Linked DNA regions of Homo sapiens: region 1 is linked to region 2. The links come from fine-mapping of genetic effects on gene expression. A gene starts in region 2. The other region holds a variant in brackets. All regions are shown on one strand. Distances are between the middles of the regions.

Region 1 (5,380 bases), 30 kb before region 2:
TTTGACAAAGACAAAACAAAGGCAAAACAAAGACAAAATAGTAGGAACAAAATACAGATCAGAGTTTGCCGGGGCTATGAAAAGGGGAAGGGATTGACTATGAAGTGGCAACATGAGAGAATGTTTTGGGGGTGATGGAACTCTTCTGTATCTTGATGTTGGTAGTGGTTATACAACTCTACACATTTGTCAAAACTCATAGAAATGTACAACAAAAAATGAATTTTATTGTGTGTAAGTTAAGCCAATTTTTAAAATTAGGGAGACAGAAAAAAGTTAAAGATTGTTTTATAAAAGCATTCATATCTTTGATAATAATATTAATTAAAATTAGCTATGTATATGGTTTCCACTAAGTAGGTAAAATAATGCATACTTCTTAGGTTTATCAACTTTAAAATTCATAAATCCATAAGAAAACAAGTTAAAGAAGAGGTTAAAAAAAGAGCTTTCTATTTACTTGGATGAAACATTAGTTCTGTCTAGGGTTATGAGTTCTTTCCTCTTTCTTTCCTGTCTTTTCCACTCTTCCCAGTGTTCCCATGTGGCTGCCTGCAGATTTTTAGCACTAAGAGAAGTTTGTCATATGGATCTTCATTTATCAGGCTTTGAATAGCATAATGGAATGCTTTTAGCAGCATAGCAGAGCAGGCAGAGATATTCTTCATATGACAGACTCTTCCCTGGATCATCAATGAAAGTCAAGAGTCTAACACTAAAATCATGTCTCTGTGAAGGAATTTCTATCATAATCTAAAGCAAAATGGTCCATGATGTAGCTTTCTGGGGCTCTGTCTTGATCCAGGAATAGAACTTAGAGAAACTCACATTCCTAGGCTCTTTCTCTTGAATACCATGATTTTAGCCAAGTTTCTGGGGAGAGGTAAAGCTTAGAGAGCCCAAAGTGAACATCCCTAGCAGGTACAGTAAAAACTCTCCTACCCAGTTTACCAAGACAGGTAATTGGGTGGTTAAAAATTCAACGCTAACTATATATCTTAAACTTATTTTAAATTGAGACACATAATTATACATTGACCTACCAGTCTTCTGGTGATAGCCTAAACCAAGCTTGTAACCCGCGGACAAGGGCTACAAGTGACCCAGGAAGGCTTTGAATGTGGCCCAACACAAATTTGTAAACTTTCTTAAAACATTATGAGATTTATTTTTGCGATTTTTATTTTTAGCTCATCAGCTATCATTAGTGTTAATATTTTGTGTGTGGCCCAAGAGAATTCTTTCAACATGGCCCAGGGAAGCCAAAAGATTGGACACCCCTGGACTAAGACCTTCTCTTTGAGTATGAATCCACTGGTTGGAGTTCTTCATCTGGCAAGAACCATACTCATTATACATCATCTCCACTTGATCTTAGCCAAAAGGCTGAGAAGCGACACATAAAACATCATCTCCAATTTCCAGTTTTAATTTCTTTAAAGTCTAGAAGAAACTTGAAGATACTTGCAATGCACACCTAGTGCAGAATCATTCTGGAATTTTATGATTATTTGTCACAGTCTTTTATAGTTACCTTGGCCACACCAAATTTGATAGCATTTTTTTTTCTTACTAGCTCATCAAATTAATTTTTATGTTAACAGCTCTTTTTTCCCTCCTATTTCATCAAATCACCTAATCAAAATGTGGCAAAAACAGGTTTGGAAACCAGCATAGCTGACTCTTGGTAAGCATACAACTGAATGGGTGGGTCAGAAGTCCATATCTGGTACTAGAAGTAGCTTGCTAAACAAGGCATTAGTCAATAGGTTTCACAGAGGGAATGGAAAGTTTCCCTTAATCCAGTGACTCACGTAAGTGAAGGTCAGTTAAAAGAATACCTTTAGCACCTGAAATGTAGGTATTCTATGTTATTGATACATTTTGTTTTGAAAGTAATGTCTGTGATTTGCACACTGAATTGCAGGGATACATGTAAATAGGATGAAGATTTTCATCCTATAAGAACAACTATTACTGTTACTAAAGGTATTTGGATTTTTTATTGTGAACGCGTGCGACAATAAACACCATAAGGAACATAATCACCCTAGTTAACATAATTTCTTTTTCTTTATGCTCCCTGACCTGAGATATCTGATGCTCATTGGATTTCTCACATAGTCCCTCTCAGAATTTCCCATATGCTCTCCACTTCCTCACTGTACTCACAAGCTCTTGCTCCCAGTTGAAGTTTGTCTACAGAAATCAGAAATATCTTCCCTTTACTGGTACGGCTATGGGCTTCTGTCTTCAAACTCAGCCCTGCCCCAATATCATGAGCTACTTTTTGTCTGTTCCTTGATGTTTAATGAGGATATTACCTACCCAAAGAGACTTCTGGACTTCAGTTCTGAAAGTCCTGCTACACAGGGCAAGACTACTGTATTTTGACTTTGAGAGTGACAAATTATCCTTCTGTGCAAAATACAGACTTAAATTGGCACCTGTAGAGTAATTTATTTCCATCACAATTGTACCCC[C/G]AAGGGCTTGTCTACATAGACACCCCAGACAACTAAGTCTTTTCAAGACTTTCTGTGTTACCCATTTTGATTCCCAAGACTTTCTTCCAATAAAGTAGATTTTTACCTTTTTCAAAGCTGATATTAAGCTGCTCCTTTGACAATAACTGGCCAAATATTCCGTTGCTTCTTGAGGTCATAATCTAAAAGATATTGGCAGGACCATTTAATCTCCATAAAGGAGGATGTATGTCTTCCTGTCTGCTATGGAAGGAGAGTGAAAATCTAGTTCAGCTAAAAGCTATTTGAATTTATTCAGGTTTTAAGTTGAATAGGAATGTGAGAAAGTGTTACTTTGTGCTACTTAAAATTGAAGCTCTCTATGTTGGATAACCTTTCCTGTCATTTAATAATCAACCTTTCTTTCTTTCTTTATAGGCATTTTAAGGGGATCATATATTTTTCTCTTTGATTATTTATGATGGTTAGCTGAAGAGGTGGGGCTGGGAGGGAGCATCTTTCCAGAAGTTATTCCTGCATGGGGTGAGAGCAGAGCTAATCCTCTCCTTAGCATTCATTCATGTTTCAAGTTTCTTGTAGCCATTAGGTCAAACACGGGATGCACTGAGTATATTTAAGCTGAGATCAGGCATCTAGTGTATACACTTGTTCTTTAAGAAGAAAAATGTGCATACTTTAATAGATCTGTATATTCAGAGGTCTAGATCAGGATAGGGAATAAGTACATGTTTCCATGAAGAGCAGAAGCTCTTGGTAGATGGGCCAATAGCCACTGCCTCCACGTCCTCACATCTCACTTTCTCTTCAGCCCTCCAATCCAGACTTCTGTTCCCAGTGCTCCTCTGGCTGCTCATGTCAAGGTCACCAAGAACCTCTCTCACAAAATTCACTGGTCCCTCTGTCCTTATCTTACTGGACATTTCAGCAGCATTGGCAAAACTGTCTCACCTTCCATCTGAGACAGTTTTTCTCTTGACACCCAGGGCCCTATCACCCTAAATCCCTGGCCCCTACTCAGTCGCCTTTGCTGGATCTTCCTTTTCTTCCTAGGTTTTAAGAGAGCACCTCAGTGCCCAGCCCCTAGCTCTCCTTTGTTTTCTATCTACATCATCTCCCTACATGAACTCATCCAGTCCGAAAGTTTTAAATACCACCTCTATGCCAGTGCCTTCCATATTTAAATTTATAGCCCTGACCTTTCTTTTGAGCTCCAGATTTGTCCTAATGGACATTATCTTTTAATGGGTATTAATGGATGCTGAAAGGAATCACCAAGTTATTATGTTCAAACACAGCTTTTGATTTTTTGCTCTCTCATCTGCCAAAGGGTACCTCACCTAGACCTCCCTGTTTCATGGCACAGCACCACCATCAAATCAGTTACTCAGACCGACTTGTTTCTGATTCTCCCCTTTCCCTCATCCTCATCACTGCCCCTCCAAGCTGCAACCCTTCTGCAAATTCTGCTGGTCTTACCTCTAAACAGTTGCTTACCTCTAAAACAAGCAACTATTACCCAAGGGACGAATTCCTCTATTGCCCTGTACAGTCTTTTCTTACACATCTTAAAAACATAAATCTCATCCTCCAGTGGCTTTTCACTGCATTTTAAATCAAATCCACTCTTTCTTGTGACCTAGCGAGGCCCTGACAGGCTGGTTGCTAACTCCTTCCTGACCTTGTCTTGTCCTGCTTTCCTGCCTCTCACCACACTCCAGTCTGTCAGGCTCTGGAACTAGCCAAGTTCGTTCCTGCCTCAGGGTCTTTGCATTCACTCCTCCTTCTGCCTGGCATGCTCTGCCCCAGATCTTCGCATGGCTGGCTCCTTTACCATTCAGATCTCACCCCAAATGTCATCTTCCCAAAAAGGACTTTCCTGGGTACCTGAATCAGCTGCTCTTTTCCTCCACCCACAGATGCAGCACACTTGCTCTCATATTATCCTTTTTCTATTACTGTCCTTATACACATCCCACTTTTGTAATAATCTTGTTTATTTATTTGCTTTCTTATTTATCATATGTCCCCTCTGGCAGAAATAAATTTCACAAGTGTAAGTCATGTCTGCTTTATTTCCTGGGGTATCCCCAGTGCCTGGTACATAGTAGGTACTCAATACATCTTTGTTGAAGGAATAATTGTAGAATAAATAGTTGTAGCTTAGAAATAGACATGAGGTGGGGAGGGAGAAGGTTGGCATAACGTTTAAACTTCTAACGGAGTTTTACTTCACTGTATCAAAATACAAAGAGGCATAAAGCTTTGAATGTATGTGAAATTGTTGTTAAAATCTGGGTCTCTTGTACATACTTTATTTATGGAAGAAAAATATGAGGTGATGATCTTTATGTTTAATTCCTCATCCTGCCACTTTCTAGGGCAGGGGTTCATAACTTTTTTTGTCCATTGGGATCACCTCAGGGGCAGGGCTTCGATCCCACCCCCCAGGTGGTCCCAATTGATGTGGGTCGTGGCCTGAGCATTAGGAGTTTTAAAGATTTACAGGTGATTTTAGTATGCAGAAAAACTTAAGAACTCGTGTTCTGGGAGATATTTATGGAACTCATGAAATATGCTTTCCAAAGCTCATGTAGTCTGGGAAATAGAGCCATTTACCTGAAGATCTAGCATTAGAGTCTTCAAAGCTTCTTATTCATTAGTATAGACAGGGACAGGGCCTAACTCATTCTGGCTGAGTTTGAGTATCACCAACCACATCAGTCTCTCTCAGCTCTAGATGTTTCAGGAGCAAAGAGAAGAGAATTTCTGAATGCAGGTGGAAGATGAAGGTCCACTCAAGAGGGAAGAAATGAAGGGACTACCTAGGTGGTCCAACTGAGAAGCTGGTATGGTCATCACCTGGGCCATAGCAAGAGGGAAGAGTTCTCAGGGGTGGC
Region 2 (5,380 bases):
TAATGTATTGATGTATTTGTATAAGGATTCCTGTGTTTCCTTGCTCTAAGTACTTATCTTGAAAATAGGAACTGTTAACAAAATCCATGGCTAACTTTTTCCCCAATATTAAGAGATGAAAGAAAGTGTAGGTAGGGTCCCAAGAGAGAAGTTTTCACATACTGAATTATCTCCTAATACAGGCTAGAAAAACGATAAATCTGATGAAAATAAATAAAAATTTGGGGGACAAAATCATGTTAGGTTTATTGAGATATGTGAATTTCCCCAATCTTTAAAAACTGTTCTTATGCTAAAACTTACCCCTTCCTATCACCACAGTGAAGAGAGTAATTTATATCTAAGACCTTATTTTAGGGATTTTATTTTAGGCGGTATCATAGGAATTTATCTCATGGTATAAATAGTTTAGTAAATCTGGGATTTGGGAAAGAGTTTTTCTCTACAGCACAGGCCTTTTGTTCAGCAGCAGATGACAAAATAATTTTGAGGCAAGATGATTTAACTTCAGTTTGATGTCCAGCCATCCACCCCAAATCTTATGCTCCAAATTCCAGAATGTGGCCAGAGTATTGAAAATTAAGTTTTTAAAAAATCATTTGATCCAAATCTTCTAAATATATATACATATATGCAAGAATGACACAGCCTTCAAATTATGGTTTGGCCTATAGTTTGTGTATAGCTCTCTAGAGAATTTCGATCTTAAGGTTAAAATCTCAAATATGTGGAGATCATGTCTGAGGACTTGACTACCATAAAATTCTGTCAGCATCCATGCATCATGTATATGGATTACCAAATAATGCCGAGTCTCCTACCCTGAGATGGCAGCCAATTTTTGGTGTGCCTGACGGGCCATTTCACAGCCTTTGGTTCTTGTCTTGTGCATTTCCGCCCGGAGTGAGGGGCAGCTGACCGAGACATCCCCAATAGAAATGACCAGCTCTCGGTACAGGGCCACTTGTGTGTTGAACTCTTGGACAAGCTGGAAAAGAAGTGAGTTTTTTTTTTTTTACCAAACATTTCTCATCAGAAAGTTTCCTGTTTCGGAGTACATAAACAGGGGCTTTCACTGACCCCTGAGTCAGCTCCCCAGATCTCCAGCTAAGGAACCTAGGAATTGTTTAAAGCAGAAGGCACCAAAATGGCAAGTCTCTTTGTCCAAGGCAAGTATTTATTTCCATAGGCAAGCCTGGCCATGGAAGCTCTATTTCCAGACCTACTTCCCCTCACCCTTTCAGACTCAGTTTCTGAAGAGCAAGAGAGCATATTTGGAGCGCTACCATGCCACTCCCAGGCCAACAGAGAATGATGCTGGGGACTCCTACATAGACGGTCCCCTCTCCTACTGCTAGGACATGGCTTTTAAGTTGCACGGCGGGAGGGGCGGGGGAGGCGACAGGTAGGGTGTAATAGGCAAACCATTCACCTTTTGCTGGGCCACTGAACCTCTCGGCCTGACGGCCTGACGGGAAGACCAGCTACAGCCTCTGCGCTGGAACCTTCGACCCCTCCGCAGCGCCCCGTGCGCTGTATTTGGGTTTGTTTGCTACTCTGTCCCCAGAAAGCAGCATCCCCACCTCCTCATCCCTCCCTCCTCCGTGAGCGAGCCAGTTCACTGTGTCTTTCGCATCCACCATTCTTCGAGGGGGTACAGGCACAACCTACAGCCGCTGATCCCCAAGACCCTTGCTGTCACACTTCTTTCTGCAGGGTTATTACGACCAGGGTGTCACCCTGAATTTGGGGGACTGCAGATTTAAAAATAGTGCATGTGCCACGTGATCGGCATTGAGGAGCTGAGGGTGGGGGAGTGGCTGGCACTCAGGCAAATGATTAACATACATGACTCCCCCCACCCCCTCTCAATTAAAAAAAAAAAAAAAGAGGCGCAGTTTTCACCCACCATCTTGCAGTCGTCCAGGGCTCGTTGGGTTTTGTGGGCGCTCTCGGAGCCGCTGCCCCTGCGCTCCCAATCTCCGCTCTGCAGCGGGGGCTTGCTGATCTGGAAGATCGAGGAGCGGGTGGACCGGCTGGGGCGCTTTTTGCGCCCATTCGGTGCAGAACTCATGCATACACATCCACCAAGCCGAAGCCGCTGGTGCAGTGCGCCCCGGCGCGGGCGGCCCGGTTGTTGCCCTGGGCGCCGCCGCCAAGCAGCCGGAGCCCGGACCTGAGGCGCGCAGCTCACAGTGCTGGGGCTGGCTGCGCGGGTCGGTAACCTTCAGCTTGAAGGAGAGCCGGGGAAGCGCTAGCTGTGCCGTGCAGCATCGCTTCCACTAGCAGCGAGGAAGGAGCGCGATCAAGTTCTGCTCAGCAGCATTGCCGACCCTGTCCCGGGAGCTGGGCGCTGGCGCGGGCTCGCACTGCCTTCCTCTCGGCATGGATTGCAAGGCTGGGCGAGAAGGAACGCGCCGCCCGGCGGTTCCGAGTTTCCATTCAGGTGGGGGAGCAGCTTTCAAAGCCTGCGCTGCAAGGTGGGGGGCGGAAAGGGGTGTCGCTCTTGCTTCAGTGTCTTCCCGCAGCGGCACTCGGTTCGTCTTTCCCCTCCCTCCACTGTCGCCAGGCCTGGAAGGACTGGCCGTCCCCAAAGCAAGCAATTGGCTCTAATCGGCTGCCTTGATCCCTCGTCTCTAAGGGCTTGTCTGTTTGAAGATCCCAGATGAATCTGTGGCGGGACTGGCAGACGCAGAGAATCGGTCCGGCTGACGTTGTTCGCGGGCCCGCACATTGATAGGACGGGAATACTAATGTGATCTGTCCATGCAACCCCCTTCCCCCTCCACAGTTTATGCACTTATCCAATCAAATCCCCGGGAACATCAATTGCAATATTACTTCATCTGCTCTATTATTAGAAACGAAAAGTGTCATCAGAGTGGAGCACATGCCACATGCTGGGACCTAAACATGGATTTCAAATAAGCCAGTGTGGGCTTGAGGCCCTCACCAACTGAGACTGAGACAGGGGCCACAGGAGGGAGTGAGGTTTTGCTCCAAATGGAAGACCTCTTGATAACCTAAAAGGAGAGCTTTGTTTCCCTGAGTTGTTTTGTTTTTATTTTGTCCTTGTTCATGGAGGGGGAAAGAGGAGAGCCAGTGAGGCAGAATGCACAGAGGCATTCACTCAGATTGGGCCTCATCCCCATCCCATTTCAAGTAGTAAAGCTCTTGGTCTTGCATTGCAGGGTCTCAGGACTCAGCTCCTAGAGTTCCCTTCCGGAGACTTGAACAAATAAGAGCCAAGAGATCTCCCTGGACACTCAAAATGACCTTCTTCTCACTTATGGGATATCAGTAACCCAGAGGCCAACAGAGGTGGCCCAGAAAATCGGGGATGATTCTTGTGTGAAAGGAGTGGGGGTGAGGCCCTCAGCCATTTAAGTTCACCCTTCCCACTGACATCTTCCTAAGGTTCTTCTGGGAGGAAGAGAGAGTGTTGTGGCATTCAACTCTAAGGCTCTAAGGATGCTTGTTCTCCTGAATGATTTGTTTGGAGAGGGAGATAAAGGGGTCTCCCATAGGAAAACTAGTTATGTATTAGTAATCCTAATAAGAACAGATTAGAGGTTCCTGGTCAGTCTGTTAAAGGGATATGGAGAGTACATAGAAAGAGAAAGCCTGAAATAGCCAGGAAGGTTAATATCCTAAGGAGGGTGGCTTTACAACCTTTTCTACAAGACAAGTAAATATAATGGGGTACTATAATAAGAGAGTTATTTGGTCTTTGTCCCCAGTCCCTAGGGCAGAACTCCTAAAACCCTTAGAAATTGCCTGAGTTATTATGATAAGCCATCTTGTCACCAGAAAGACCAAGCCTTGATTAGTTGCTTGCAACTTTCAGCCTCATCCCCCAATCTCAGGGGATAGGAGAGGAGCTAGTGACTGCGTTCCTCACCAATGGCCAATTATTTAATCAATCATGCCTACATAAAGAAACCTCTGTAAAACTCCTAAACAACAATAGAGTGTGGGGAGCTTCTGGGTTGTGGAAGACATCTAGGTGCTGGAAGGGTGGTACACCAGGAAAGAGCATGGAAGTTCCATGTCCTTTTCCCATACCTTGCCCTATGTTTCTCTTCCAGTTGGCTGCTCCTCAGTTGTATCCTTTAGAATAGACTGCTAATAGTAAGTAAAGCTCTTTCCTGAGTGCTGTGAGTCATTCTAGTGAATTACCAAATCTGAGAAGGTGGTTATAGGAACCCCTGAATTTGTCGCCAAGATGGAGAGAAGAGTTGGTAACCTGTGGATCCCATACTTGTGACTGGCCTCTGAGATGAGGGCAGTCTTGTGGGACTGAGCCCTTAAACCTGTAAATCTGACGTTAACTCTGGGTAGTTAGTGCCAGAAATGAGTTGTAGGCCACCTAATTGGTGTTAGAGAGTTGGAGAAGTGCTATTGGAAAAGACATCATGTATTTGGGTGGGAAGGAAAAAAAACCTAACAGATGGATCACTGAGTGGATATTTGGCTACATTTTTTTTTTTTCTGAGTCAGGGTCTTGCTCCGTCACCCAGATTGGAATTTAGTGACACCATGAGAGCTCACTTCAGCCTCAACTTCCTGGGCTCAGGTGATCCTCCCACTTCAGCCTCCCAAGTAGTTGAGACTACAGGCACATGCCACCTAATATTTTGTAAAGACAGAGTTTTGCCATGTTGCCCAGGCTGGTCTTGAACTCCTGAGCTCAAGTAATCCACACACCTTCACCTGCCAAAGTGCTGGGATTACAGGTGTGAGCCACTGCGCCTGACCAGAACTTCACACAAGCTTGAGAGTGAGTTTTCCCTATCAAAGACTAGAGAAAGGAGGCATCAGCTCTCAGGCCCAGACCTTGGTGTGCTGCTATCCTCCAGGTGTTTAGATGTCCCAGAGACTGAGAGAAAGGGCTCTTCTGCTGGTTGAATCTCCCCAAATATAAGAAGATAACAGGTTAGTGCTTAGTCAGCTCCCTGACCCTTTCTCTTTCCTGCAATCTCAATTACCTCCCCTCCCTTCCTCCCTCCCTCCTTTTTTTCCTTCCTTCCTTCCCTCCTTCCTTCCTTCCTTCCTTCCTTCCTTCCTTCCTTTTTTCCTTCCTTCCTTCCTCTCTCTCTTCCTTCTCTCTCTCTTTCTTTCATTCTTTTGTTCATTCGTTCATTCTACGGAGTCTCACTCTGTTTCCCAGGCTGTAGTGCAGACTTCTGAGTAGTTCCACAGACATGCCTGAGTTGGCCGCTCCTGAGTTGTATTCTTTAGAATAGACTGGTAATAGTAAGAAAAGCTCTTTCCTGAGTGCTGTGTCATTCTAGTGAATTACCAAATCTGAGAAGGAGGTTGTAGGAACCCCTTCCTACAACCTGAGCTGAGTGGACCACAGGCACGTGCCACCACACCC

What was found. PIP is the estimated chance that this variant, and not a neighbour inherited with it, causes the effect. A credible set is the group of variants that fine-mapping cannot tell apart.
Region 1: its variant is the best candidate, but not a certain one, in a credible set for the expression of RGS7BP in nasal epithelium (TOPMed, PIP 0.62).

The regions. Positions count from the first base shown.
Region 1 is chr5:64,533,072-64,538,451 of GRCh38, reverse strand. The region is part of intron 2 of RGS7BP (regulator of G protein signaling 7 binding protein); the gene reads right to left. Among named protein-coding and RNA genes, the nearest start is that of RGS7BP, 30 kb to the right of the region's middle. The variant C/G (reference allele first, on the strand shown) is at 2,484.
Region 2 is chr5:64,503,319-64,508,698 of GRCh38, reverse strand. RGS7BP (regulator of G protein signaling 7 binding protein) reads right to left here and starts at 2,684. Exons shown (of 6, transcript NM_001029875.3): 1 at 1,910-2,684; 2 at 822-988. The coding sequence starts at 2,074.